Homo sapiens: one gene and its partners. The protein of the gene in region 7 purifies or fractionates together with the protein of the main gene of each other region. This does not show direct contact. Each region holds a gene or a part of one and is shown on either strand. Other genes may lie near its edges.

Region 1 (4,385 bases), about 40 Mb from region 7:
TGACTCTTTAGTTTCCATATATTGATGTTGACATGGCAAAAATCTTGGTAGCTTATATAAAGGAAATTTTTGCCAGTGTTACATATGACAGAGAAAAGAAGGGAAACATTAAGTTTTACTATATATCTGTGGTTAGAGCACATAGGTGGGATAGTTAACTTTATTTTCTTACTCCTGCTTTCTGCTACTCATTACAAAATGGTTATGAATGATCTCTGTGAATATTGCATTAATTAATTTAACAGAAATATTTTAATTTTAAATGTTAGTTTTTTTACAGAACAGTAATTGAATTTGCAACAAAGATATTTATTAAAATCCACTCTCATTTCTACAGAGAATGTTCCTGAGTATTTCTTGATTGTTGTCACATTAATTAAATTGGCAATCTGAAATATCTAAAGGATAAAATATTTTCTAAATAGTTTGGGTGTTTAAATAGAAGCATCCATTGTTGAAATCTAAATGATAACAAATCTTCAATTGATTTATATAGTGGTGATTTAAAAATAGAATCATTTCTCATCTGTTGATGCCTAAGGGAAACATTGACATTGTGCCTTTATGATATTGAACAGATGAGTCATGTAATTTTCAGTTACTTAGACAAATACTGCTTCTTTGATGATATATAAATGCCTTTTTTAAAATACTTATTTACATGGAACATATCAAATTTCAGAGTCTTATTTCAAATTAAGTAGGCACGATAATTTTTCAATCTATGATTTCTAAAAATTGAAGTTTAAAGTTCTGCTCAAATAAGCCAGATATGAAAATATTATTTTTTTGATTAAGTAATAAGATAATAGTCTTACAATTCTGGTGACTGTAAATTTTGTTCAAAGAGTTTACCTTTATTTGAGATTTATTCATTATACAAAGATGATGCCATGTTATTTCAGCTTATTAAAGTCCCACTCTTTTACCTTGAGTGAAGTTTTTGAATTTGAAATTTTTCATATTATCATTAAAATGTAGTATATCACTATTTTCATCTCTACTAATTTTAAGATTCTATTTTGGTCTTGCTAATTTTAACTCCTGAGTATGAGAGGGTGGTGTGTGTGTGTGTGTGTGTGTGTGTGTGTGTGTGTGTGTGTATGTGTATGTGTATGTGTGTATGTGTGTTTAAAGTTCAATTCACTCAGAGAAGGCAAGGAAGAAACATGACAGGAGACCACTTACTCACGGTACAGAATCTAGTAGGGAGGCAATTTTCTTTTTGGCCTATGGTGACCTTTTTTGACTATGTTCCTTACACCAGAGACAGTGTACTGAATGCCTCTATTTCACCCTGTTTAGCAGAGTGCAACAGTGTTCTTTAACTTACTTTTGGTGGGAGGAGAAGTTATAGCTGAAATTTGAGAAGGGCGTGAAAAGTTGTAAGAGGCACAAGGAAGAGGGGTAGGAACTTCCTTCAAATGTGATTTTAATAACTAGTCAAGTGTGTCCAACTGTAGAAAATCACCAAGTGACAATCTGTCTACCTGACAGTGATCACAATGAATTACAAGACTTTTGAATAGCTATACAGATTAGAATAAAGCAGGACCAAATAAAATATCTTTTGTTGGTAAAACTTTTGACTTAGAGCTAAGAAACTTTAAAAAAAATTCTCTTTTGCTTTGATGTAGAAAGTTTAAATTACAGAATGTGTAAAGTGTTTTATAAGCTTTTTGTGAAAGAAGCATTATTCTAAAAGCTTTATTTGAACATCTGTTGAAGAATGGGTGGTGGTTTGTAAATCAGTTTGCTATATATTATTATATAGTTTCCATATATGTAAGATGACTGTATCTTAATTAATAGTCCTATCATTAAAATCAGAACTTCAGTGATCTTGAAAATTTCCAAACTAAATAATCGTTTTAGACAATAATATCATCTGATGGAGGAAAAAATAGAAAACAATTCCAAAGAAGTTTGTAAGTAGTTTGTGAAATCAACTGTTTAAAAAAACCAACCATGTGCAGTAATGCAGCATATTTTAAAATAAGATAATTGAGTCTGTGCTATTACTGGTTTACTATTACTGCTGTCAATTTTTTAAAATCATCTTATGGTTGGTTTGGCAAAAAATTTAAAATTTAAACTTCAAGTAGAAGATTCTACAGTTACTGTCTTGAAAAACTATATATACTACCTATTTTAAGTAAGGATGAGATTTTATAAGTTTTATTTTCTATTAAATAGATTTTCTAATAAATAGATTTTGTGAGCTATTTTCTGTAGCTCTTATGTTTTTATTATAATATCATACATCTTTTAAATATGACCTTATAGTATTTTACAAGGACATAATTGGAACCTCACAACACATAACTGAATAGAAAAGACAAGATATATAATAGCTTCAAAAATTTGTGTTACCCATGCTTGTCAATGGTTATTGTTTATCCCTCTCTATATTTTCTCATGGTTAGCTTATTCCATTAGACATAATATAAATATCAAACGTTTTCTTAATTATAACCACAGAAATGTTTGCCAGGCTAGAAAGAAATGAGACAGGAAAACATGTTTTACAAATTTAAAAAAAAAAAAGCCTTAATAGCTCAACAAGCTGTATTTTTTAACTTTGGAACCTTGCTTATTTCCTGATTATAGTTTTTAATAAAGAGAATTTTTATGGTAGGTTGAAAAATGAAAGAAATTTTAAGATTAAAGACTTGCTTCCATACATTATAGTAAGACAGTGGCTTATTTTGCTACATGATTTTTCTGGCCTCCTGTGAGAAACAAAGTGAATAAAATTCAAGGTACACAAGTAGATGTTATGTCTTTATAATAATGTAGGTATGGATGGTTTTGTAATGTTAAATCAGATTTATTCTTTTTTAACTGCTTATTCTTTTTAATTGTTCAGACAAATAAAAAATGCTCTTGAAAGGGCCATTGTAAAGAAAAATATACAAAAAAATGTAGTTTGAATTGTAAACTTTGATTTCAGAGGTTGTTTTCTCAAAACAGATAGTATAAATATTAATATAATTTGAAAGTTTACTTGAAAATAAATTATTTGCTAATTTATTTCAGTCATTTTTGGGTTCTGAGATATCTGAATTAGTTTTTTAATTTAAGCTTTATAATCTTTATGTTGCAATTATATTTTTTGTTCTTATAAATAATAAAAGCTTATTTATATACACAATAAAGGCAAACAATTTTAAATGACTTTCTTTTGAAAAAAATAAAATCATTATCTTGCCTAAAGGAGTATTTTAATGAATATGCAACTATATAAAAATTGCTTAGACTGAAATTTTAAGAACTTTTTTGAAAATTGAAATGGATTATAAGATTTAAATTATGCTACCTTCTTTCATTTCAAAACAGGAAGGATATGGAGTAATAGTACTAAATCCCAATGAAAACTATATTGAAGTAGAAAAGCCGAAGATACACGTACAGTCATCATCTGATAGTTCAGATGAACCAGCAGAAAAACGGGAAAGAAAAGATAAAGTTTCTAAAGAAACAAAGAAGCGACGTGATTTCTATGAGAAGTATCGTAACCCCCAAAGAGAAAAAGAAATGATGCAATTGTATATCAGAGTGAGTGAGATCACTACTTTCCTTTACTATTTTCTTTACCTTGTATATATTTTATTATATGTAGATTGTTTTGTTTTTCTTCAAGAATATTAATTTTTTTATTTGTCATCATTTATTTCCCATAGTCGTCTACTTGGATTAAATGGGTTTTTAAATTCAGAATTACAAAACGCATCATTCTTATTTCAGTGTGACATTTTATAGAAGTCACAAATGCAAATTCTGTTTCCTTTTGTGTCATATACTACCTCAAGAAAAATTTTCTAAAATAATTTTATTGTGATGGATGCAGAAGGCAGAAAACTTGCCAATTCAGTTTCCAAACACGCTGTTTCTTTAAGGAAACATAGCATCAGCATAACATGCCGTTATGTTGTCCATAAGAGAGAGTATATGTAGCCTCACAATTCTAAGACATATCACCTGCTGAATTAATAATGCTCCATACAAAACATTCATCTTGGGGGGTAAGGTTTACTGGATAATGCATTGTTTTACGATGAGCAACTATCTACAGTGTCTCAGCCTAATGTCTAAAGGCAGATAGAGGGAGGAAGAGTAATTAATATCTTAATAAATACTTAAGCCAAAATAGTGTAGGGATAGTGTAATGAGGGAACTCTGTCCTTTTCTCTTGTCCTACCCAGCGAACTTTTACACTTTGTAGTACTAACGGTATGGGATCATTAGAGCAGTGTTGCCCAAGGATTTCTAATTCTGTAGGGGGCACAAACAATTTTGTTTACACTTGGACATATTCAGAATGTTGACATGCATACTATAAATTATATATATGAGACATTTGTCAATTTTCAAAGCCCTTATTA
Region 2 (4,385 bases), about 14 Mb from region 7:
AAAAATTGGGATTTGCTTCTGGGAGTCCCTGCTATGAGAAATGACTCAAAAGGCCTTTAAGGGCCACAAAGTTACTTACTGATTGATGTTTGCTATAGTGTCCATCCAGCTGCGAATGCGCACCTTATTCCGGACATTGGGAGGGTTACTGAATTCATGGATAATACAGATGTGATAGGGGTAGGGACCACTAAATAGCTTCTGCTCCAAAGTTAGAGTGTCCACCTGTGGAAGACATCATAAAGAGATGTCTTCAACAAAGAGAATGCCTTAGAAATCTCTCTCCGAGAGCTTGAACAATCTTTCCATGGACCTTCAGTTTTGAAATCTCTGGCTGATTTGAAAATCAAATAGTCACATTCAGACCTGAAAACAGTCTGTCATGCTGGGAATAATTTTGCAAATTCTTCTGTCTAGGGAACTTGGCAATTTATATCTCACTGTTATATTTAAATGCCTACTAAACCAGAGAATCCTGATTGAGATAAATGACGTCAGTCAACTCAGAATCCACTTCTGTGTATGTCCTTTATTAAGTACTGACTGCATTATAGAACTGTGAATGTGTAGTAACATATACCCTATTCAAATGAGACTGCTGCCCAGTCTTTAAGAGAGAATGCATTTTCTTGTCTTCTAGGAGCCTTTGATAACATTGCTTTTTTCTCATGGCATACCCTCCCCCATCTCTAGTTATGAAATCTCACTCGGCCATCTGCGTGGCATAAGTGTTTGTCTCCTTTTTGGGAAGGCAAACTCCTTGAGGGAAGGATCATGTGTTGTGTTTTTATTTGCACCCAGCATATTTTAAGTTTTGAGACACTTGACAATATGATGAACTGACTCTTTTGAGGCCAGGCTTACACACTGATTACAAAGAGGCATTTAAAATTTCCTTTAAACCCTCTTTTGGCATTAAGCACAGAACCTTATATACAATATACTCTTAATAATGATAATGACACTAACAGTAGTTATATGATGGCTTACTATATACTAGCACATGTTTTAGAGTTTCACATATATTAAATATCACAATAATCCTGGGTATATCATTATTATTCTAATTTTACAGATGAAGAAACTAAGACATCGAAGTCAAATAATCTGCTACAGGTCAGACAGCCAGAAATTTAATCAGGCAGTCTGAACCAGAGACTGTGCTCTTAAACCACAGGTAACTTTTAATAAGTATAAAAACCTGTTGAATAACAACTCCCTATATCATACATAACCTGTAAAAACTAAAATATCATTACTGTAGGTTGGGCAAGTGAATGAATGCCAAATCCAAAAGGCTAAAGACTAACAAGAAAAAGAAAAAGAAAAACACCACAATATGTGTATCATCGGAAAGAAGCAAAGCTCGTTACCTGCTGCATTGGGCGTAGGTATATGATGCGGTTTCTCTCGGGTGGCATTCTTAGTATCTGGTCTAGTACCTGATCCATGTTCAGTTTCTTGCACTGTGCATAGTCAAATCGGTTTACAATTGGTGCATTTTCTACCTTTAAATGTTTTAGTACCCTGCACCTGGTAGCTACAAAATGAAAACAATGGTAAGCTCCGTACATATCATCTTTGGAGAGATGGCCTAATTTTTGTTGGCACAAAATACTGCAGTAACAAACATCTTTAACAGAGGTCAAATAATATCATAGAGTACAAATCACAGTTAACAAAAAAATTTGAAAATGTGGTTCTGTTCAATTCAAAAGAAGGTAGAAGGGGCATTAAAGTGCCTTTTTCTAAGATTTTACTGTTAAGAAAACCAAGTCTCAGAAAATGACTTGCCCAGACAGAAACTGTTTAGGAAATATTTATTTAAAAAATGAGTAACTATTATACATTTTTATAGTCAATAGTCAGACCTGAAATAATTCACCTATGTTACCTTACATTCACTCTCAGGAATGAGCAGAGTTGGATTTTAATTCCTGTCACAAACGTAAAAGTAGAACCTTGAAAAAAAAGACCCAGAAACACATTTGGATACTTTGGTCTAAAGCTATTCAGTCCAATCTAGTAGCCATGTGGTTAGTGGTTACCATAATACTGAACAGTGTAGACACAGAACATTAAAGTTCTATTGAAATGCTCATCTAAAACATGATTAGTTTTTCTGTTTGACATATAAAACATGAAGTCAGAAAAAAGTAATTTTGATATAATAAACACATTTAACTGAACTAGTATATCAACTTCAGAAAAATATTTCCTTCTCTTTTTTTAATCTCCAATTTCAACCTGGTCCAATTTTCACTGCAGATTTCAACCAGGTCCAACTTGAGAGAGATCAAATGGAAAAGATTATAAAACCACAGGCTCATTTGTCTGATCTTAACATTTCACAGACATCTGTAACATCCTTGACCCAAATGTCATCATCGTCTTGTGCAATCTAATGTAACTAACTTGACATTTAAACACTGAGAGAGACTCCCGCCTCTCACGTTCATTTTCTCCTTTTGTGACTTGGTGGAAAGAAGGGGAACTGTTGTTGAGGACAGCAACAGAGGAAAGGAGAGCGCTAGATGACAGTAAGGATCCAGTGGTTCTTAGCTATAAAATCCGACATGACTAAGGTCAGTTCTAATCTCATTTAATCATCTCCGCTGTCATTAACTTAGCCACTACCTACAGACTAAGCTAAGATCCTCTCACCACGATAAGCTGAGCCAAACAATTTGGTTTAAAGGGGAGAAGGTTGGGCCTGAGGCCGTGTGATCCATCATTAGGTTAGAGAAGGTACAGGAGAAATCATCAAAGTAAAAAGAAGAAAACTAGTCAGATTCTCGGAGAGCTCAGAGTAGAGAAAGGAATGGAACGAGATGCCGACTGGCAGAGTCTGAAGATTGAGTTTTACATTCTCAGAGCTCAAAGGGTGTAGGTACTGACAGAATGAAAGTTCTTCCAGTGCTACTGTAAGGCTAGGGTGAGTACCCCTACTGTTACAATCTCTGAGCTTTTGAAGAGCCTGTGTTCTCCACTGTAAAAGGAAACTCCAATAGGAGATAGTAATTTAAGATGTTTTAGGACCAAAGACCACATTGGCTGGGATAGAGAAAAGTACTACTACTTCAGAGTAAACAATAGAGTCTGGGGTCCCCAAGGTCTGAACTTTTGTAGAATTCAGAGGAGAAGTAGTGCTTGAATCTCAGTTTCATCTCTCCTTTCTTGGGTTCTCCTCAGTTTATGACAATATGTTTGGTAAATACCTTTTAATGGGATTTCTTTGTTTACTACTAATATGGTAGGAGATATAAAACAAAATAGACCTCAATATTTTTTGGCAATACAGGTTGACGAACCTTTATCTGAAATGCTTGGGACCAGAAGTGTTTTAGATTTCAGATTTTTCTTCAAATTTTGGAGTATTTGCATTATATACTTACCCTAATCAAAAAAATCTGAAATCTGAAATGCTGCTCCAATGAATATTTCCTTTGAGCATCATGTTAGTGCTCAGAAAGTTTTGAATTTTTAAGCACTTGGGCTTTCTGATTTTTAGATTAGAGATGCTCAACGTGCACTAACATAATACAAATTAACATCACTAGGCATTACTAGAGGTCAGACCCTGTACTGTGTGTGTGGGTGTGTGCATATGTCATGTATATATATACATATACAGGCATTTCTCATTTTATTGCACTTTATTGTGCTTCGCAGACATTACACTGTTTACACAAGGTCTGTGGCAACCATGAATTGAGCATCTACTGGTGCCATTTTTTTAGTAAGCACGTGCTCCCTTTGAGTCTTTGGGTTACACTTTAATAATTCTTGCAGTATTTCAAACTTTTTCATTATTATTTTATCCATTATGGTGGTCTATGATCAATGATCTCTGATGTTACTGTTTTAATTGTGGGGTGCCACAAACTGCACCAATATAAGTGAACTTAATAAATGTTGTGTGTGTCCTGACTGCTCTCCCAACAGGCTGTTCCCCTGTCTCTCTCCCTTTCCTCAGGTCTCCCTACTCCCTGAGATACAATGATGTCGAAATTAGGCCAATTAATAACACTACAATGGCCTCTAAGTGTTCAAGTAAAAGGAAGAGTCACAAATCTCACTGTATTTTTTTATTTATTTTTTTGAGATGGAGTCTTGCTCTGTCGCCCAGACTGGAGTGCAGCTGCGCAGTCTCGGCTCACTGCAAGCCCCGCCTACCGGGTTCATGCCATTCTCCTGCCTCAGCCTCCCTAGTAGCTGGGACTACAGGCACCCGCCACCATGCCCGGCTAATTTTTTGTATTTTTAGTGAGACGGGGTTTCACCATGTTAGCGAGGATGGTCTTGATCTCCTGACCTCGTGATCCGCCCGCCTTGGCCTCCCAAAGTGCTGGGATTACAGGCGTAAAGCACTGCGCCCGGCCACA
Region 3 (4,385 bases), on a different chromosome or scaffold from region 7:
ATGCAGCCAGTAATTGACCAAGCCAAGATTCTAATCTAGGTCTGCCAAACTAGAGAAGGCATGTGCTTAACCACGATGTCAGATATTGCCTCATTACAATATTCATATAATGCCCAGGTCAGCATGAATTACCAAAAAGAGATAAAAGTGTTTCCAGTGCCTTTTATTTAAGAAGAGAGAAAATTAAGACATACATTTTAGAAATATTTCTATCTTGTGCTCACTTCAGCAGCCCATATACTAAAATTGGAACGATACAGAGAATATTCATATGGCCCCTGTACGAGAATAACACAAAAATTTGTGAAGTGTCCCATAAAAAAATAAAAGTAATAAACATAATTTTTTTAAACAATAAATATTTCTATCCAAAGTGGAAGAATATTTTAAGCATTGGTGCTTAAAGGAGTAAGCATTAGTTATCAGAAAAATCCTGAACAATGCCTAACCTGGAAGGTGTTTCTGTATCATCCAGTATTCTTAGAACTGCAAAGAAGCTAAGTAAACCTTCTGGCAGCTTTAGAATGCAGAAATCATTGGCAACTTCACCATGTTTTTATTTGAAAAAAAAAAATACCATAGTATTGGCCAGGCGTGGTGGCTCATGCCTGTAATCCCAGCATTTTGGGATGCCAAGGTGGGCAGATCACTTGAGGTCAGGAGCTTGAGATCAGCCTGGCCAACATGGTGAAACTCCGTCTCTACTAAAAATACAAAAATTAGCCGGGCGTGGTGGCGCGTGCCTGTAATCCCAGCTACTTGAGAGGCTGAGGCATGAGAATTGCTTGAGCCCAGGAGGCAGAGGTTGCAGTGAGCAGAGATGACACCACTGCACTCCAGACTGGGTGACAGAGCAAAACTCTGTCTCAAAAAAAAAAAAAAAAAGGAATAAAAAAGAAAATATCATAGTATTTATTAAAGAAAAATTTAAAATTTCCTGAAGAGTCTGGACCATAATAGAAAAAAAAAAGAAAATTCCATAGTAGACATTATTCTACAAGGGATATAAAGTGGTCACCCATCACACCTACCTCAAAAGTCACACACACAGACCCACACATAAATAGAGAGAGAGAAAGAAACAGAGATTGAGAGAGAGAGTGCAAATTAGGCAATAGGGGAAAATGGAATAAAATATTCTGAAACAGATATAACCTGGTCCTAGGGCTAACTTTAGGAAAAATGGTGAAGGAAGCAAAGTTTATCTGGGGCAAAGCTACCAGCATTGCTAATAATAATATCTACCATGCAGAGAATACTTACTACATTCCGGGCACTCTTCTGGGGCCTTTACATATATGAATTCCTTGAAATGTCACATGATTCTATCAGACATTCAAAGAAAAATTGGTACCAATCCTTCTAAAACTATCCCAAAAGACAGAGAGAGATAATCCTCCCTAAATCATTCTATGAAGCCAGTATTACCCTCAAACCAAAACCAGAAACAGACATGACAAAAAAAGAAAACTACAGACCAGTACCCCTGATGAACATAGATGCAAAAATTCTCAACAAAATACTAGGTAACTGAATCCAATACCATATCAAAAAGATAATACACCATGATCAAATGGGTTTCATACCAGGGATGCAGGTTTGGTTTAACACATGCAAGTCAATAAATGTGATACACCACATAAACAGAATTAAAAACAAAAATCACATGATCATCTCAATAGATGCAGAAAAAGCATTTGACAAAATCCAGCATCCCTTTATGATTAAAACCCTCCACAAAATCAGCATGGAAGGGACATACCTTAAGGTAATAAAAGCCATCTATGACAAACCCACAGCCAACATTATATTGAACAGGGAAAAGATGAAAACATTCTTCCTGAGAACTGGAACTGGACAAGGATGCCCCCTTTCACCATTTCTGTTCAACATAGTCCTGGAAGTCCTAGCCAGAGCAATCAGACAAAAGAAAGAAATAAGGGGCATCCAAATCGGTAAAGAGGAAGTCAAACTCTCACTGTTTGCTGATGATATGATTGTATACCTAGAAAACCCTAAAGACTCATCCAAAAAGCTCCTAGATCTGAAAAATGAATTCAGTAAAGTTCAGGATACAAAATCAATATGTCAGTAACACTACTATACACCAACAGCAACCAAGCTGAGAATCAAATCAAGAACTCAACCCCTTTTACAACAGCTGCAAAAAAAATAATATACTTAGGCATATACCTAACCCAGGAGGTGAAAGATCTCTACAAGGAAAACTACAAAACACTGCTGAAAGAAATCATAGATGACACAAACAAATGGAAACACATCCCATGCTCATGGATGGGTAGAATCAATATTGTGAAAAAGACCATACTGCTAAAAACAATCTACAAATTCAACGCAATTCCCATCAAAATACCATAATAATTCTTGACAGAACTAGAAAAAACAATCCTAAAATTCATATGAAACCCAAAAAGAACACACATAGCCAAAGCAAGATTAAACAAAAAGAACAAATCTAGAGGCATCACATTACCCGACTTCAAACTATACTACAAGCCTGTAGTTACCAAAATAGCATGGTAGTGGTATAAAAATAGGCACATAAACCAATGACACAGAATAGAGAACCCAGAAATAAAGCCCAATACTTACAGCCAACTGGTCTTTGACAAAGCAAACAAAAACATAAACTGGGGAAAGGACACCCTATTCAACAAATGGTGCTGGGATATTTGGCAAGCCACATGTAGGAGAATGAACCTGGATCCTCATCTCTCACCGCATCTCTCATCTCTCACCTCTCTACAAAAATCAACTCAAGATGGACCAAGGACTTAAATCTAAGACCTGAAATCATAAAAATTCTAGAAGACAACATTGGAAAAACTCTTCTAGGTATTGGCTTTGGCAAAGAGTTCATGACCAAGAACTCAAAAACAAAGGCAACAAAAACAAAGATAAATAGATGGGACCTAATTAAACTAAAAAATTTCTGCACAGCAAAATAAATAATCAGCAGAGTAAACAGACAACTCACAATGTGGGAGAAAATATTCCCAAACTATGCATCTGACAAAGGTCTAATATCCAGAATCGACAAGGAACTCAAACAAATCAGCAAAAATAAATAAATAGATAAATAAATAAATAAATAAATAAATAAATAAATAAATAAAGTAGAAATAAAAATAAACAAATAGGCCGGGTGCGGTGGCTCACGCCTGTAATCCCAGCACTTTGGGAGACCCAGGCGGGCGGATCACCTGAGGTCAGGAGTTTGAGACCAGCCTGGCCAACATAGTGAAACCCTGTCTCTACTAACAACACAAAAATTAGCCAGGCATGGTGGCGGGCGCCTGTATTCCCAGCTACTCAGGAGGCTGAGGCAGGAGAATCGCTGGAACCAGGGAGGTAGAGGTTGCAGTGAGCCAAGATCACACCACTGCATTCCAGCTTGGGCAACAGAGTGAGACTCAGTCTCAAAAAACAAAACAAAACAAAAACAAAAAACAAATAATCCCATCAAAAAGTGGGCTAAGGACATGAATAGACAATTCTCAAAGAACATATACAAATGGCCAAGAAACATATGAAAAAATGCTCAACATCACTAAGCACTGGAAATGCAAATCAAACCACAATGAGATATCACCTCACTCCTGCAGAAATGGCCACAATTAAAAAAAAAACAAAAAATATTAGATGTTGGCATGAATGTGGTGAAAAGGAAACACTTCTACACTGCTGGTGGGAATGTAAACTAGTACAACCACTATGGAAAACCTTAAGTATGGAGATTCCTTAAAGAAGTAAAAGTAGAACTACCATTTGATCCAGTAATCCTACTACTGAGTATCTACCCAGAGGAAAAGAAGTCACTATATGAAAAGGACACTTGCACACACATATTTATAGTAGCACAATTTGCAATTGCAAAGTTATGGACCCAGCCTAAATGCCCATCAGCCAAAGAGTGGATAAAGAAAATGTAATATACATATATATAATATGTATACATACACACACACACACACACACACACACCATGGAATACTACTCAGCCATAAGAAGGAACAAAATAATGGCATTCACGACAACCTGGGTGGAGGTGGAGACCATTATTCTAAGGGAAGTAACTCAGGAATGGAAAACCAAACATCATATGTTCTCACTTATAAGGGGGAGCTAAGCTATGAGGATGCAAAGGCATAGGAATGATGTAATGGGCTCTGGGGACTCAGGGGGAAGGGTGGGAGTAGGGTGAGGGATAAAAGACTCTACATTGGGTACAGTGTACACTGCTCAAGTGATGGATGCACCAAAATCTCAGAAATCACCACTGAATAACTTATCCATGTAACCAAACACCACCTACCTGTTCCTCCCAAACTATTGAAATAATATTTTTTAAAAAGGTCACACGA
Region 4 (4,385 bases), on a different chromosome or scaffold from region 7:
ACGCCTGGCTAATTTTTCTATTTTTTTTTAGTAGAGACGGGGTTTCACCATGTTGGCCGGGATGGTCTTGATCTCCTGACCTTGTGATCTGCCTGCCTCAGGCTCCCAAAGTTCTGGGATTACAGGTGTGAGCTACCATACCCAGCTCCTTTAGTTTCTCAAAGGTAATTATTACTTATATTAAAAAGAAAAAGAGGCCGGGTGCAGTGGCTCACGCCTGTAATCCCAGCACTTTGGGAGGTTGAGGCGGGCGGATTACTTGAGGTCAGGAGTTTGAGACCAGTCTGGCAAACATGGTGAAACCCCATCTCTAATAAAAATACAAAAATTAGCCGGGCGGGGTGGTACATGCCTTTAGTCCCAGCTACTTGGGAGGCAGTGAGCCAAGATCATGCCACTGCACTCCAGCCTGGGTGACAGAGCAAGACTCTGTCTCAGAAAAGAAAAAAAAAAAATGAAAAGAAAAAAAGGTCAGAAGTTTCTAGACACTAAATCCTCCTTAAGGATGGGTACAGAAATTCATGCTTGTAATCCCAGCACTTTGGGACACAGAGGCGCAAGGATTGCTTGAGCCCAGGAGTTTGAGGCTGCAGTGAGCTGACTGCACCACTACACACCAGCCTGGGGGACAGAATGAGATTCTGCCTCTAAAACAAACAAAAACACCAAAAATCCTCCTTAAAATTTTGCAAGGAAAATTGCAAAATTAATCATTAATCAATTTGCACTCTAAAACTGTAGAATTAGAATTATTTTCCTTCCACAAAAACAGCAGGAGTTTGGGACACAGCTATCAAAGCTATTCAATATTCAATATTCAATATTCAGCCTCAATATTCAATGAGGGAGGTGGGTGAAAGGTGGTGCTGGCCCAATAGGGGGAATACAGGCAGGACACCACCTCAAAGTAACAGTTATCCATTTACACTTTCATTTTAAATCTTTATTGCTTTTCTCTGATTATAAAAATAAATGCTCATGGTAGAAAATTCAGATCTTCCAGAAATATGAATGCGGAGAGTAAAAATCTGTAACTCTTAAGAGTGCATCATTCCAGCTTTTTCTTTTAAGAATTATTTAAAACCTCACTAACATTTATTTAAAACACTTTTTTAAAAAAGTAGGATATGCTATGTTTAATCCAGCAACTTGCTTTTCTTGCTAAAGATTTTATTTGGTCTACTGAGTAAACAGAGATCCACCGCATTGTTTTTGAAAAGTTGGATAGTATTCTATGGCATGAATGAATCACAGTTTAACCACATTTCCTCTCATGGAAAAATGTTTTTACAATTATTGACTTTGGTCAATAATCTTGCTCACATATCCTTGTGCACATGTGATAGCATTTTTGGATATCCAAATCCTAGAAATGGATTTGCTGGGTCAAAGGGTGTGTGCATTAACATTTTTATTAGACTGCATTTACATTTTAAATCTTCAAAATTGGTCTGCAGTATGAAATGGCACTAGCTCAATTTTTTGTTGTCTCTCGCCCAGCCATCACCAAGTCTAGTTTAATTCTTTTGTCAGAAGTCATTGAGATGACAGCTTCCTGTCACAGGCTGGCATGCAACCTCAGGTGTTTTCAGTCTTTAGTGCCACAACTCTAATGCACTTCAAAAATAATTGCCATTTTTTTTAGAGGGGTGAGCTTTTTCATTTTTTTTTTTTTTTCAAATGACACTAGCTTCATATATCTTTTTGGAGCTTTGGATAGGATTTAGAAAAAGAGATAAAACAAGACGAATCTATTGCCCAATTCTTCCTTCTTTCATCTGCTGGAGTTAACTATAACATATTGGTGCTCTTCGGACAACCACCTGGGTTATTGGCTGCAAGAGGCCGTATCTGCCAGTTCCCATCTACTTAGCATACCATTATTCTCTTTCTAACACTTTTCCAGTATTTGTCACATTAAACCTAAGTTAACTGTTCTGGCCACCTAAGCAACACTTCCATTTTGAGAGGACAAAGAAGACAACATTTCAAGAGTACAATACTGGTAACAGTACCCTCCTGGACCACTTAGAATAAAGTGATTTTTTGCTTCTTCTAAACTCATAGATTTTAAAACACCTGCACTCATTAACTTGCCAATTGGTCATGAACTTCCTTTGGAGTTAAAAAAAAATACAACATATAAAAGATTAGTCATTAAAGTGTTTTTACAAATCAAATACTAGCTACATTCTCCCCACTATAAATAGGAATATATATGTGTCATGAAAGTACAAACTAAATAATATTCAAGATTCTTTCTAGCCCTGGCCAGGTTTGGTGTCTCACCCCTGTAATCCCAGAACTTTGGGAGGCCAAGGCGGGCAGATCACTTGAGGCCAGGAGTTCAAGATCAGCCTGGCCAACATGGTGAAACCCCATCCCTACTAAAAATACAAAAATTAGCTGGGCATGGTGGCGGGTGCCTGTAATCCCAGGTACTCAGGAGGCTGAGGCAGGAGAATCACTTCAACCCAGAAGGTGGAGGTTGCAGTGAGCCGAGATCACCCCACTGCACTCCAGCCTGGATGACAGAGTGAGGCTCTTGTTGCAAAAACAAAAAAAAAACAAAGATCCTTTCCACCCCTAACACTTTATTAATCTACTGGTTTTCAAAGAATTAGAATCCAATATAAGAAAATATATGTAAACTACTAGAGCTAGAGTAAGAATAACAGTATTTTTTTTTTTGTTTTTGAGATGGGGTCTCACTCTGTTGCCCAGTGGTGAGATCTCGGCTCACTGCAACCTTTGTCTCCTGGGTTCAAGTGATTCTCCTGCCTCAGCCTACCCAGTGGCTGGGATTACAGGCTCATGCTACCATGCCCAGCTAATTTTTTTATTTTTAGTAGAGACAGGGTTTTACCATGTTGGCCAGGCTGGTGTTGAATTCCTGACCTCAAGTGATCCACCCGTCAGGCTCCCAAAATGCTGGAATTACAGGTGTGAGCCACCACACCTGGCCAAGTAAATCTTATTTATTTATTTATTTATTTTAAAGACTGAGTCTTGCTTTGTTGCCCAGGCTGGAGAGCAGTGGTGTGATCTCAGCTCACTGCAACCTTTGCTTCCAGGGTTCAAGCGATTCTCCTGCCTCAGCCTCCCGAGTAGCTAGGACTACAGGCGTGCATCACCATGCCCAGCTAATTTTTTGTATTTTTAGTAGAGATGGGGTTTTGCCATGTTGGCCAGGCTGGTCTCGAGCTCATGGCCTCAAGTGATCTGCCTGTGTCGGCCTCCCAAAGTGCTGAGATTACAGGCATGAGCTGTGCTCAGCCCCCCCTTTTTTTTTTTTTTTTTTTTAAGAGAAGGGGTCTTGCTATGTTGCCCAGGCTGGTCTGAAACTCCTTAGTTCAAGCAATCCTCCCACCTGAGCCTCCCAAAATTCTGGGATTACAGGTTTGAGCCACTGTGCCCAACCCTTGAGTGAATCTTTGATTTAGAAAGCAGCGCACTATTTTTTCTAAAGCTGGAGATCATCATTATAAAGATCAGCTTCGAGAAACTAAACTGACCCCAAGCTGTAATCCAAAAGTTATTTATTTGAATAAAACCCCTCTCCCAAGACCCAAAACAACATGGTATCAAGCAGTAAAAGAGAAGTGCCTGTATAAGCATACAGTATATTTCAAATGTTACTATATAAACAAAGAAAATGTTTATGTATAACATTTATATTCTGGACTATGTCAGTGGTGGTATGACACTAATGAGAGAAATATCTGCCCTCAAATCCATGTCAAATGTGCAGTTATTTGGATTTAAGGCCAACGAAAAAGATGCAGTGAAAAAGAGACTAAAAAACAGAATCAGCATGAAAGAAGGATTCATCTAAATCTGGGGCATAATTTGGATAATATACAACATTAAAAAAATAAAGACAGGAGAAAGGGGAGGAAATGTACAAGAAATAATTTTAGAAAGTCATTCCAGAAAAAAAATCTATCTTATAAAACATATTTTAATGCTAGTCTTTTAGTACTTATTTATGTCAGGCCACCTCTTACTGGATGTTTGGTTTCCTGTGCTGAGACTCAGAAAAATTGTCTTGTGGTTAGAAAATAGCATATTCTCAAGGCAGTTGACTGAAAAGTATATTTTTTTGGCATGCCATTTTTTACAACAAATTTTACTTTAAAAAGAGGGTGAATTAATTAGCTTGGAGATTAACTCTCACTGGTAGAAGTGTAGTGGATTTATTCAGCATGCTTAAAAAAGAAAATGGATCAGAATTTAGGATTTTATATATATGTAACTGACAGAACCTGAGATAAAGGAGAGTTTTTCACTTGCAAAAAATAAAAAATAAATAAATAAATAATAAAAATAAAGAAAGAAAAAGAAAAATTAAGAACACTGAAGGGATGGTGGGAAAGATTTCTTAA
Region 5 (4,385 bases), on a different chromosome or scaffold from region 7:
CTCAAAAATACTGAGCAGCTAAATTTGTTTTACAAATTGCCATTCTTCCTTGGTAATCTACAATCTAAACTAAGCCAAACATATTCAAGCCTGTACTCCCTATTTTAAACATCTTTGGGGCTTACAAGTAGGAATTTCTCTAGATGTAGAAAAAAGGCTACCATTTAATTAAACAATTTAGTGAAAATATAATTGCCTTATTCTAAATATTAGTTTTTCAGAGCATATTAAAGAATTCTGGGACTTAAGGAACATTTCTTGTGGGAAAATCTTCAATTTTCAAAAAAAGAATGCTTGGCTAAGAATTTTTTTTTAATAACAAAACAAGTAACCACTTTCTGACATTACAGTATATTTATAGTAAGGTTTTCTTTGATTGACGTGAGTTATGCTTATCGTGATGGTTTTGGAGGGAACAAAAAATATTAATTTCTACCATATATTCCTTAAAGACTTGGGCATTTGTTTTATGTGGCAAGATTCACTGTTTCACTACTTTCTGGGAGACAGAAATATAAATTCATGTTTTATATATAAGTATGTAAGATGTATATTTAAACACACACAGACAACCTGCGTCGGCCTTCATTGTTTACACACTTCTTAATCTCATTGTCCTGTGATGACTGAGGCAACAGTTCAAAGATAGCTTTATATACTATGGGTCAAACAACTCAGCATTCTTTAAAGCATCATCTTTACATGTACAAAATAATACTAAAAATGAATAGCCCATGAACCAACCTACCATTCATTACCCAAGTCACTCACTATGGGGATAGGATAGGACTGAATTACATAAAGGATGGATAATACGACTTTGTATTAAAAGACTAGCTGGGTACACGGTTGGCATTCAAATGCTTGCTCATTAGATTAGTGATCGAGGAGAAGGGTACTCAAGATTTAAACACTTCTAAGACATTTGTCTGGGGTTAAGAAAGTGAATTTTGAAATTGAATTTTGAAACTAGTATCAAGAGCAATGTACTTCAAAACAAAAAATTAGAAACAAAAATGTAAATTAGCCTAACAGAACCAAGCTAGGCGGAGTAAACTCCAATGCATTTGTATACTAAATGGCAGCCAAGCACAAATCCCACACTTGAAAAATTATCAGCTTTTTCCTCTACAGAACACTAATTTTTTTTCCAGTAGAAGAAACCTAAGGCAGAGAACTGTGGATGCTGTACTACAGTACTCAATACTCTAAAATAAACTCAAAGAGAAAAAGGAAATAACAGGCAAACATTCTGGGAAAAAAAAAAAAAGACTCAATGGAGAAAAAGATGAAACAAAGCCTGTAAGTAGGTCACCTCATTGCTTTTGCTAATGCCAAAGTACCAATCCTTATCATTTTTATTACCAAGAGTTACTGAAGGAAAACACCAACCTTTGTGTTGGCTGCAATCCAATTGGAGGTTTCACTGTCATCATCACACTTTTTAATCCATTTCTTTAACCACTGTTTGAAAATAACAACGGTTAGGATACAACAAAAGACTTTTAAAAATAGCAAATTACTTTAGCACTTAACTATAGTCAAGCTTAAATGTAAAAGCCAATGAATAAGATTATCACTAGGCTCACATCCTCTTAAGCCAGGGAAATCCCATAGCTACAATGTCCAGTATATATAAAATCAACCAAAGCAGGATTTTCTTTGGCAGAAGCTGAGTGGGGAACCTAGAGCTTGAAGAGAAGCCCAACTGCAAGGTGTGTATTCCCCTAATTACAAAGCCTGACAAAGAGGTGCCTTAGCCATGGTTATCCTAATAACAATCAGGAGCTGACTTGGCTTATCCTAAGGAATTACCTCTGAATACATGTAATGATCATCTGAAATTAAAAGGATAAAAAAAAATCTATCAATAGATAGATAACAAAATCATCAGCTATGATTTTTAGTCACTAAGTCTTAGAAGTGTGCCATTATTTAAAAATTGAAATGTCAGACAAACTCACCTTACATTTAACAGGATCATGCCAATTTTCTCCACAGTTAAAGCTGTTAAGTGACACAAAGAGTTAATAGAATTAAGGCCTACCTACTGTAAGCAAGTAAATAAGCCAATCATTTCATGCCTTATAGTTCCACAGTATTGTCACTAGTTTCTAGTGACTGGCAAATACAAGGAGAGAACCCATGTCTGCTTTACAGTTAATTACCTAGAATTTAGTAGTAGAACTAGCACATAGTGGGTACTCAATATGTGTGAAGAATGACTATAAGCATGAAGACACGCTTTGATGACAATTTCATAATAATTGTTGCTAAGGTGCCTCAGACTATATTGAGAAGTTTCAACCCATGCTTCATCAGTGCATTTTTAATCTTTTACTTAACACCCTAAATGAAGAATAAAAGGCTGACTTTGTAGGTTACTTATATAATTTAGTACTAATACACAGTAAACAATATATGGGAAGCAAATAGGTCACATCTTTGCATTATTTAAACAAATGAACCTCCGCCCTGTAGAGGGAAATGGTACTGGGCAAGGTATAAAACAAAAAGACTAAATACTCACTAAACATGTGTTAATCAGTAATTCACTTTTGTTTTCTAAGTTCATGACATATACACTTGTAAAAGAAGTATAATTAACAAACACAAATGCTTAAGAAAAAAATAATAAAATGACAGATTAATTAGCTAATTAAGTAATTTACGAATGGCAAAAAGTCCTTTGCTAAAGACAGAAACAAACTACTATTGATTTAAATCAGGTTAAGATAAATGGTTATTTCTGAAAAGAAAGATGGGGAATGGGAAGGAGCAGGGAACCAAGGAGCTTCAAATATATGTGTCATGTTTTATCTCTTAATGAAGAAAAACAAAATACTAATTTTGATTTAACTGGATTGTAGCTATATAGGTATTCACTGCTGTATTCTCTATACTTTTATGTTTGAAATGTGTCACGCTAAAAATACATTGGAAAGTAGGTATTATCCACCTTTTCTCTAAAATAACAATACATAATTAATCTTTATCGAAACAGTATGTATTTTACACATACTTAATCTCTGTGAGCTTACCTGCTCTTTTTGGAAATATTTATTATTAATGATGTGTTAAGTGTAATTCTATAGATGTTTGGAGGAAAAAAAGAAAGGTATGGAATACCAATAAAATATTTCCCCCTCCAAACCACCCCGCAGCAAAAAAGAAAATCTGGCTGGCCATGGTGCTTCTCACCTGTAATCCCAGCACTTAGGGAGGGCCGAGGCAGGTGGATTACTTGAGGCCAGGAGTTCAAGACCAGCCTGGCCAACAAGGTGAAATGCTGTCTCTATTAAAAATAAATACATAAATAAATAAACAAATAAATAAATAAATAAAAATTAGCCAGGCGTGGTGGCACACGCCTGTAATCCCAGCTACTCAAGAGGCACAAGAATCACTTGAACCTGAGAAGCAAAGGTTACAGTGCGAGATCGTGCCACTGCACTCCAGCCTGGGTGATGGAGTGAGACCCTCTCTCAAAACAAAACAAAACAAAAAATCTATTTGCTGGGTCTAGAGCCCCTTGACTTGATTGGCTTCTTACTCCTCAAGACCCTCAAAGGAACAGAAAATCATCTTAACTTCTAGCAGGATATAAATGTTTGTGTCCCCCTAAAATGTGTATGTTAAAACTTAATAACCAATGTGACAGTATTAGGATGTGGAGCCTTTAGGAGGTGAATGGAATTGGCATCCTTTTTAAAAAAAAAAGGGGCCCAGAGAGCTGCCTTGTCCTTTCCACCATATGAGGACCCAGCAAGTAGGCACCATCTATGAACCAGAAAAGCAGGCCCTCGCCAGACAACAAATCTTTTGGCACCTTGATCTTGGACTTCTCACCCTTAAGAACTGTAAGAAATAAATTTATGTTGTTTAGAAGCCGCCCAGTTTATGGTCTTTTGTTATAAAAGCCTGAACATTAAGACAGAAAATGGTACCAAGAAGTGAGGGTGCTGTTCTAACAAAACCAAAAATGTGAAAGCCGATTTGAAACTAGGTAGTAAGTAGAGGCTGGAAGAGCTTGGAAGTGCAAGCTAGAAAAAGCCTAGATCACTGTGAATGAACTGAATTGTTAAGGGTAATTCTGGTGAGGATTCAGAAAGACAGAAGTGCAGGGAATGCCTCAATCATAGAGAAAACCTAAATAAATGGCCATGAACAGAATGTTGTTAGAAATATGGACAGTAAAGGCCATTATGATGAGGTCTCAGATGAAAATGAGGAACATGCTGTTAGAAACTAGAGGAAAGGCCATCCTTGCTATAAAGTGGCAAAGAAGTTGGCTGAATTGTTTTGTGGAAGGTAGAGAAATGAAACTGAATATCTGGTTGAGGAAATTACTAAGCAAAGTGTTGAAGACGCAGCTTAGCTTCTCT
Region 6 (4,354 bases), on a different chromosome or scaffold from region 7:
ATTTACTCAACAAATATTTACCGCATGCCTAATATATGAAGGGCATTCTTAGGTACTTGGGATTAAAGATGAAAAGTGCATGGCTCCCATCTTCAAGGTGTTCACAATCCAACATGGTGGTGAGAAATAAAAATAGTGAAAACACACCTGCAAACATCTGAGTGCTTACTACTGAGGCACTGTTCTAGTATATCAGCTACTTAACCATTTAACAGTCATAGGAGGCAGAAACGATTATCCTCATTTTGTAGATATGAAACTGAAGTAAAATTATTTTTTCTGATTCTTAGATACCTCATCTTTAAAATAGACACAGCAATACCTAACTCATGGGGTGCTGTGAAGATTAAGTATCCTGGCACGAGAAGGTAGTCAATAAATATTTTAGAAAGAAATGGATAGAGGGATTATGCTATGGTCTGGATGTTTTTGTGCTCCTCCAAATTTATATACTGACGTGTTAATGAAAGGAGTTAGTTTGCCTTAGGTAGATAGCAAGGGAAGGGTCCCCAGAGAGCCCCAGGTCCACAGGTCAGTGCCTCATCCCCATATAACATAAAAAGCAGTTGGGGAAAAAAAGTCAAGCTGCAGGCACCGATGAGGGAACTAGCACAGGGCATTGTGCCTAAAGACATGCCCACGGCTGCACAGACAGAAAAACCTTCAATCAGATAAAGGACAAGACCTGGGATAGAAATGCCTTTGTCCTTTGTATAGTCAGGGGGCTCTCTCCTTTTGTGGGCATAGGCACAGTGGGCTCCAGTGGGTTCCTGGGCCAGGGTCCCGGGCCAAGCTGAGTCACGCTGCGGGCCAAGACAGCCCACAGACTAAGCACATTCCTTCCCCTTTCCAGTCCATAAAAACCCTGGGCCCCAGCCTCACGGGAGCATCCTGTTTGGGCCCCCCTCTCTGCTGGCAGAGAGCTTTCTTCTTTTGCTTATTAAACTTTCGCTCTAACCTCACCTTTGTATCTGTGCTCCTTAATCTTCTTGGAGGTAGGACAAAGAACTCCTGGCATTATCTCAGACAATGAGAGACTGTTATATCTTGGTGCACTGCTGAGACTACAACATTAACACCAATGTTATGGTGTTAGGAGGTGGAGCTGTGGGAGGTGATGAGGTCATGGGGTGGAATCCATGAATGGGATTAGTGCTCTTCCTATCAATGAGACCCAGGAGAGGCCCCCTGCCCTTCCACGACAGCAAGAAAGTGCCACCTATGAGGCTGAGAGTGGGTCCTCACCAGACACCTCGACTGCTAATTCCTAGATCTTAGACTTCCTGGTCTCCAGAACTGTGAGAATAAATTTCCACTGTTTATAAGCTACCCAGTTTACAGTATTTTGTTATAGCAGCTTGAATGGATGAAGACTGATTATCTAAAAATATTAGAATTAACAGGGTTGAGAGTGGTTAGAGAATTGCTTCTTCTGTCCTTCTAAGTAAACTGTATATGGCCATCTTCCCTACTCACATCCCTGTGGGATCTCCTTTATTCTATTCCAGTTCTCTAAATGAATGGATGAGTTAGAGGGATGTGTGAGGCTGGGAGAGTATACCTCAATCTCAGTGTATGTTCTTAGGCCAGTTCATTAACCTCCCTAGCCCTCAATTTTCCATTTGATAACATAGGGATAATACCATCTACTCGCAGATTGTAAAAATGGAGCAAATATGTGTGAAAATGCCCAGGACCGAGGTCATTCCTTCCTTCTGCCAACTCTGGCTCCTCCCCCGCCTCCCTCCTGTGATTCCTTTGTGTTGGCTGCCCTGATCCTGTGAGGAAACCTGACCCTCCTCTCTCAGCTACTACCCACCACTGAGTTCTCTAAAGTGTTTCATTGTTAACTTCCTTATTTTTAGCATTCTTATTTCTGTTTTTTAACATAGAGGAAACTTTAAGTAAAATCTAGATTTCCCCTGAAGATACTGCTTGCCTTAAATCTTTCTCAACTGGAGGCTGGTTATCTCCCAAGCTCCTCCAGGTCATATGGCTACAACGTGTGACTGATTTTTCTCTTGGCTCCTATTTCTTTCCAGACCACAACCTACAACTTTCATTCAATAATTGCCCTTCCTCCAAGCTCAAGTCATCTAGAGTCATCTAGAATACTGCCCTTTCCACACTCCCTTCACTTGCTGACCTCCAGCACATCACCCCCTCCCTCCAAGCATGGCTCACATCTCTGTTCTGTCCATTATCCTCCATAACCTGGCTTCACATCATTCTGGCCTTGCTTCTTTCAAAGCCTGCTACTTCTATTAAAAAAAAACAGTATTTGAGGAGAAACAGTAAAACAATTTTTATTTGACATGAGCAAATGGTAAAAAGTAGTCATACTTGAAAAAACCCTACTTATCTTTATTTTGAAATGGATAGTATATGTTTCACATGGTTTAAAATCAAAATGTTAAAAATGATAACACAATTGGAAGCAACTTTCCCTAGTCTCTACCCTCATCTTTTTCTTGCTTTTCCCAATAGTTAATCAATAGTATTAGTTTCTTGAGTATCTTTCCAGGGGTTTCTTTATGTAAATATAAACAAATATGACTAGATAGTCTCATTTTCCCTCTTACAAAAGGCAGCATACTGCATACTCTGTTCTGCAATTTGCTTTTTTTTTTTGAAACAGCTCTGTCGCCCAGGCTGGAGTGCAGTGGCGCAATCTTGGCTCACTGCAACCTCCGCCTCTCAGGCTCAAGTGATTCTCTGGCCTCAGCCTCGTGAGTAGCTCGGATTACAGGTACCCGCCACCATGCCTGGCTAATTTTTGTACATTTAGTAGAGATGGGGTTTCACCATGTTGGCCAGGCTGGTCTCGTACTCCTGACCTCAAGTGATCCACCTGCTTCGGTCTCCCATAGTGCTGGGATTACAGGTGTCAGTCACACCACTTGGCCTAATTTACTTTTTTCATCTGATGCTATCTCCTGAAGATCTTTCCAAATCAGCACACAGAAACACCATCCTCACTCTTTTTTTTTTTTAAACTGATGCGTAATATTAGCCACTACCCTACTGGACACTAGCATTGTTTATACATTTTTATTATCATAGCAAAGCTGTAGTTAATAACCTTGTTTATTTGCCCTTTTTTACTGTCCTCACATTTGTAGCTATATCCCTGAAGAGGGAGTGCTGAAGGGTTGATACGCTGGTAATTTTGAGAGGCACTATTAAGCTGTTTTCCGGAGAGGTCTATCACTTGCACTCTGATAGGCAGCAGATGGCAGTGTGTGTTTTCTAGCTTTGACAACACGGTATATTGTGTTGTATGTACTTGTGCATGTATTTTCACTAATTTCAGATATATCTTATGTAAAATTCTCTCCTATGGTTGCACGGACCTCTCCTTCCACTTCTCTCACTTCCGTGAAGCCTGGTATTCCACCTCACCGTTGCCACTAGCCTCCTGTCCTCTTCCAGTATTTTCAGCTTCTTTTTGGTTTCATACTTCTTTCCCCTCAGCCTGCTTTCCATAGACAATAATTTCTCCTGTATTCTGAGTGGTTTCTTTAATTCCCTTGACTTTCTGATGCTCACTACACTACTGATTCCCAGCCATTCTAGATTAAATCACTTGGTTCATTTTATGGCAACGGTTCCAGGCTTCGTTAAAAAAAAAAAAAAATCACAGAATCCTTTTAAATGGTTCTGTAATATTGAACTTCATATGACTTTTTAGTGCTGAACAGCCATCTTTTCACCAATCCTTAGTAGACTTCATTCTCACTCCCCATGAGATCTGCTCCGTCACAGCTAACTTCTCACTCATGATGATGAGCCTGCTTCCTAATTCACCCAGAAAGTCATAAGCTTACAAGGATCAAGGAATTCCTCCTGCTTCTTTAGGCTAGTTTGAATTGAGTTTCTGTCACTTGAAACAGAGCTTTCATATAATGTTTACATAAAACTATGGTATATAGATCATAATCGTGATTTTAAAATATTAAAAGCATACCTGCAGGACAGTGTGGTAGTTCTTCCTTAGGAATGCTAGTCATTCTTTGAAAATCATCATGACAAGCATTACAAAAATGTGTTGTTCCAAAACAGAAAAAAACAGCCACTGAACAGCAGTAGCGACATTTATATTCCAAAAAGTCTGTGCCATGTTTGGGACACATCTATAGCAAAAGAGAAGAGACAGACACAAGATCATAGTGAGACTATTTCAATCACACTTAAGATAGGCATATACATAGACAGCTCCTTAATTCATATTTTGAGGGCCTACATAACTCTAAAAATTGATTGAAAAACTGATGATACACATGTTTGAAAACTAACAAATAAATATGTGGCCTGTCCAAAAGGTCTGGACAAAGATCCAAGTTCTAATTCCATT
Region 7 (4,385 bases):
CGTGCCACTGCACTCCAGCCTGAGCAAGAGAGTGCGATTCTGTCAAAAAAAAAAAAAAAAAATCACTATCACTACTAACAAAAAATAAAAATTTAAAAATAAAAAACTCTTAAAAGGATATATAAAGAAACTAATGCCTAGGTTCACAACGGGTGGTGCCAGTAAAAAAGAAAAACAAAAAAATGCCACATTACTTTGTGGGGGGAGCAGTTTCCAATCAGATAAGAGACAGGGAAAGGAGATTTTATTGTACTTCCATAGTTTTGGCATCATGTAATTATTCTTCAAAATATGATATATATTCAATACAAACAGGCTTAAAAAAAAAAAAAACTTCTCGGCTGGGTGTGGTGGCCCACACCTATAATCCCAGCACTCTGGGAGGCCAAAGGAGACAGATCGCTTGAGCCCAGGAGTTCCGGACTAGCCTCGGCAACATGGTGAAACTCCATCTCTACAAAAAATACAAAAATTTGCCAAGTGTGGTGGCATGTGCTTGTACTCCCAGCTACTCGGGAGGCTGAGGTGAGAAGATCACCTGAACCCGGGAGGTAGAAGGTGCAGTGACCCATGACTGCACCACTGCACTCCAGCCCAGGCAACACAGTGAGGCCCTATCTCAAACAAACAAACCAAACAAACAAAAAAACCCCAAAAACCAAGCACTTCTCATTCTCAGAAGTGGCCCTACATCACCCAACCCTTTAACTCTGACCTTATCTACTCACTTCTTGCTCTAGCTTCCACTAAACTCCTTGCCTTTCCTAAAAAGGCAGGGCATGCTCTTGTCTTAAGGTCACTGTACTTGCTCCCAAATCCCAGAATTCTTTTCCCCCAAATATTCACGTCTTTGTTTAAAAGATTATCTTCGGCCAGGGATGGTGACTCAAGCCTGTAATCCCAGCACTTTGAGAGACTGAGGCAGGCGGATCACCTGAGGTCCGGAGTTCGAGACCAGCCTGGCCAACATGGTGAAACCCCATCTCTACTCAAAATACAAAAAATTAGCCGGGCGTGGTGGCGCGCGCCTGTAATCCCAGCTACTGAGGCTGAAGCAGGAGAACTGCTTAAAGCCCGGAGGCAGAGGCTGCAGTGAGCCAAAGTTGTGCCACTGTACTCCAGCCTGGGCAACAAGAGCAAAACTCCATCTCAAGAAAAAAAAAAAAAAAAAAAAAAAAAAAAAGATTATCTTCTCAGTAAGACATCTCCTGACCATCTTTATTTTAAAAACAGCTAACTGTTCACCTACTCACCCCTTTAAATTCCCCATTCCCTTCTTTATTCTCCATAGTTTTTCCATTTGATGTATTTCTAATGTTGCATATTCCCCACCCCTTCAGACCATAAACTCCATAAGGGCAGAGATTTTGTCTCTTTGGTTCACTGCTATACCCCCAGCTTTTGGATGGCATTTGAATGTACCAGGCATTCGACTACAAGCAAAGATCCTTTTAGAAACATTTTTCATTAGTATAAAATAGAATACGTTAATTGCAAGACATATTCAGAAGTCATAAAGAATGAGATCTAACTAGATAAAATAAAGCCTCTAAATCGTAACATGAATTAACGTAAGACAAGCAAACTGGTAGAAACTTTTAAAGAGTTCTTATAAAAAGCCTATTAGATAATACCACTGAATTGTCACTTAAAAATGGTTAAGGTGGTAAATTTTGTTATGTGTATTTTACCACAATTTTTTAAGCTCATTAGACAACAACATGGATGAACCTTGAAAACATTATGCTAAGTGAAATAAGCCAGATACAAAAGGACTAATATTGTATGATTCCATATATTATGTATCCAGGATAGCTAAATTCAGATACAGAAAGTAGAATAGTGTTTACCTAGCGTAATTTTTTTTTTTGAGGGGGGAGGGTGTACCAATTTTTTTTTTGAGGGGGGAGGGTGTACCGAAATTGGAAGTTACAGTTTAATGGGTACAGAGTTTCAGTGTGGGATGATAAAGTTCTGAAAATGCTTAGTGGTGATAGCTGCACAACACTGTGAATGTAATTAATGTCACTGAATGGTGCACGTTCAAAAAGTGAAAATGATCAATGTTATGTATATTTTATCACTATTTTTCTAAGACCATTAGGAAAACAGAGAAATGAAAACAGACAATGCAGAAAATGTAAATGGCCAGTAACACATGTAAAAACATTCACACTTTGGGAGGCCAAAGCAGGCAGATCGCCTGAGGTGAGGAGTTCAAGACCAGCCTGGCCAACATGGTGAAACCCTCATCTCTACAAAAATAAAAAAATTAGCTGGGCATGGTAGCGGGTGTCTGTAATCCCAGCTACTCGAGAGGATGAGGCGGGAGAATCACTTGAACCCAAGAGGCAGAGGTTGCAGTGAGCTGAGATCGTGCCACTGCACTCCAGCCTGGGCGACAGAGTGTCTGTCTCAAAAAAAAAAAAAAAAAAATGCCAGGCTCGGTGGCTCATGCCTGTAATCCCAGCACTTTGGGAGGCCAAGGTGGGCAGATCACAAGGTCAGGAATTCAAGACCAGCCTGACCAACATGGTGAAACCCCATCTCTACTAAAAAATACAAAAATTAGCCAGGCGTGGTGGCGAGTGCCTGTAATCCCAGCTACTTGGGAGGCTGAGGCAGGAGAATTGCTTGAACCTGGAAAGTGGAGGCTGCAGTGAGCCGAGATTGTGCCACTGCTCTCCAGCCTGGGCAACAGAGTGAGATCAAAAAAACAAACAAACACAAAAAAATTCAGGTTAGCCAGGCATGGTGGCTCCACCTGTAATCCCAGCACTTTGGGAGGCCAAGGCAGGGAGATCGTCTGAGGTCAGGAGTTGGAGACCAGCCTGGCCAACATGGTGAAAACCTGTCTAATATAAAAATTAGCCAGTGTGGTGGTGGGCATCTGTAATCCTAGCTATTCGGGAGGCTGAGGCAGGGAAAATTACTTGAACCCGGAAGGCAGAGGCTGCAGTGAGCTGAGATCACACCACTGCACTCCAGCCTGGGCAACAGGGCGAGGCTCCATCTCAAAAAAAAAAAAGATGCTATATATTAACTAACATAGACATATCACCTTTCATTTTGTTATATGGAAAAAAAAAAACATAGAAATGTATAGTTTGCTACCTTAAGAATGGGGGAGAATGCTGGGCGCGGTGGCTCACACCTGTGATCCCAGCACTTTGCGAGGCTGAGGTGGGCAGATCATGAGGTCAAGAGATCAAAACCATCCTGGCCAACATGGTGAAACCCTGTCTCTACTAAAAATACAAAAATTAGCTGGGCATGGTGGCGTGTGCCTGTAGTCCCAGCTACTCAGGAGGCTGAGGCAGGAGAATCACCTGAACCCAGGAGGCAGAGGTTGCAGTGAGCCGAGATCATACCACTACCCTCCAACCTGGCGACAGAGCAAGACTCTGGTCTCAAAAAAAAAAAAAAAAAAAAAAAAAAGAATGTGGGAAAAAAATATACTTACTTGTTAATACCTGTATTACAAAATACTGAAAGGATAAATTGCTACCTGAAAGGGGACTGGAATAGATAAGGACAGAAATGGGAACAAAGTGTTACATATTCCTTTGACTTTAGCCGTTTCAAAATTATAAATCTAAGAAAGACAGTCACGATTCAATTCCACCATGCTCTAGAAGTGGTATCTTTACAGAAGACTATTTAACAGTATCTATCAAAATTTAGGTATATAAGCCAACCTGCGATCCAGATATTCTACATGTAGATCATCCTTCCTAGGGAAGTGTTTGCATAGGTAGACACAGTACAGATGCCCAATAAATGACAATAGTCAACTGTGGCAAGAAAGCAGACAGAACTTTTTTCTGTATATTTTAAGAACATACAAACATCACTCAAGTAAGTGTTTAAGAACATTCAAATTTAAATGTAATTTTAAGCAGTAAATTATAAAATTCTAACATAGATTGTTGAATTACTTGTATTAATCAATTGGTGTTATATATTAAGCAGAATAAACTTAAACTCTTTAAAGACCTTACCTTTTTTAATATTGCTGCATTCACATTTGGTAGAGGAACTGGGTCATCATCTCCTTCATCATCCATTCCCAAATCTAAGAAAACCAGAAGAAAGTTTCTATTTCCTAATTCCATTATAATACTTATACCAACCAGGCTATGTCTCAAAACATAAGAGTCAGCCCCCATATCCATGAGTTCTACATCTGTGGATTCAACCAACCACAGATTAAACATATTGGGAAAAAAAATGGATGGCTGTGTCTTGCACTAAACATGTAGACTTGTTTCCTGGTCATTACTCCCTAAACAATACAGTATAAAAACTATTTGCATAGCATTTACATTGTATCCGGCATTGTAAGTAATCTAGAGAGGGGTTTTTTTTTTTTGAGACAGATTCTT

The links.
Region 1: the proteins of SKP1 (region 7) and ARB2A purify together in Homo sapiens (affinity purification with mass spectrometry; 3 studies listed by BioGRID and IntAct, with this or other methods). This does not show direct contact.
Region 2: the proteins of SKP1 (region 7) and FBXO38 purify together in Homo sapiens (affinity purification with mass spectrometry; 6 studies listed by BioGRID and IntAct, with this or other methods). This does not show direct contact.
Region 3: the proteins of SKP1 (region 7) and ARHGEF6 purify together in Homo sapiens (affinity purification with mass spectrometry; 3 studies listed by BioGRID and IntAct, with this or other methods). This does not show direct contact.
Region 4: the proteins of SKP1 (region 7) and FBXO36 purify together in Homo sapiens (affinity purification with mass spectrometry; 3 studies listed by BioGRID and IntAct, with this or other methods). This does not show direct contact.
Region 5: the proteins of SKP1 (region 7) and ARIH1 purify together in Homo sapiens (affinity purification with mass spectrometry; 4 studies listed by BioGRID and IntAct, with this or other methods). This does not show direct contact.
Region 6: the proteins of SKP1 (region 7) and MYCBP2 purify together in Homo sapiens (affinity purification with mass spectrometry; 4 studies listed by BioGRID and IntAct, with this or other methods). This does not show direct contact.

What each region holds. Positions count from the first base shown.
Region 1 is NC_000005.10:93,880,643-93,885,027, reverse strand, and holds part of ARB2A (cotranscriptional regulator ARB2A isoform 1 precursor), read left to right. Parts: intron 1-3,339; coding exon 3,340-3,558; intron 3,559-4,385. UniProt on the Homo sapiens protein: Plays a role in the regulation of alternative splicing, by interacting with AGO2 and CHD7. Seems to be required for stabilizing protein-protein interactions at the chromatin-spliceosome interface. May have hydrolase activity.
Region 2 is NC_000005.10:148,435,487-148,439,871, reverse strand, and holds part of FBXO38 (F-box only protein 38), read right to left. Parts: intron 1,541-4,385; coding exon 1,374-1,540; intron 226-1,373; coding exon 80-225; intron 1-79. UniProt on the Homo sapiens protein: Substrate recognition component of a SCF (SKP1-CUL1-F-box protein) E3 ubiquitin-protein ligase complex which mediates the ubiquitination and subsequent proteasomal degradation of PDCD1/PD-1, thereby regulating T-cells-mediated immunity.
Region 3 is NC_000023.11:136,773,783-136,778,167, forward strand, and holds part of ARHGEF6 (rho guanine nucleotide exchange factor 6), read right to left. Parts: intron 1-4,385. UniProt on the Homo sapiens protein: Acts as a RAC1 guanine nucleotide exchange factor (GEF).
Region 4 is NC_000002.12:229,925,044-229,929,428, reverse strand, and holds part of FBXO36 (F-box only protein 36), read right to left. Parts: intron 1-4,385. UniProt on the Homo sapiens protein: Substrate-recognition component of the SCF (SKP1-CUL1-F-box protein)-type E3 ubiquitin ligase complex.
Region 5 is NC_000015.10:72,564,185-72,568,569, reverse strand, and holds part of ARIH1 (E3 ubiquitin-protein ligase ARIH1), read right to left. Parts: intron 2,008-4,385; coding exon 1,965-2,007; intron 1,465-1,964; coding exon 1,393-1,464; intron 1-1,392. UniProt on the Homo sapiens protein: E3 ubiquitin-protein ligase, which catalyzes ubiquitination of target proteins together with ubiquitin-conjugating enzyme E2 UBE2L3.
Region 6 is NC_000013.11:77,047,030-77,051,383, forward strand, and holds part of MYCBP2 (E3 ubiquitin-protein ligase MYCBP2), read right to left. Parts: intron 4,134-4,354; coding exon 3,968-4,133; intron 1-3,967. UniProt on the Homo sapiens protein: Atypical E3 ubiquitin-protein ligase which specifically mediates ubiquitination of threonine and serine residues on target proteins, instead of ubiquitinating lysine residues.
Region 7 is NC_000005.10:134,163,169-134,167,553, forward strand, and holds part of SKP1 (S-phase kinase-associated protein 1), read right to left. Parts: intron 4,076-4,385; coding exon 4,002-4,075; intron 1-4,001. UniProt on the Homo sapiens protein: Essential component of the SCF (SKP1-CUL1-F-box protein) ubiquitin ligase complex, which mediates the ubiquitination of proteins involved in cell cycle progression, signal transduction and transcription.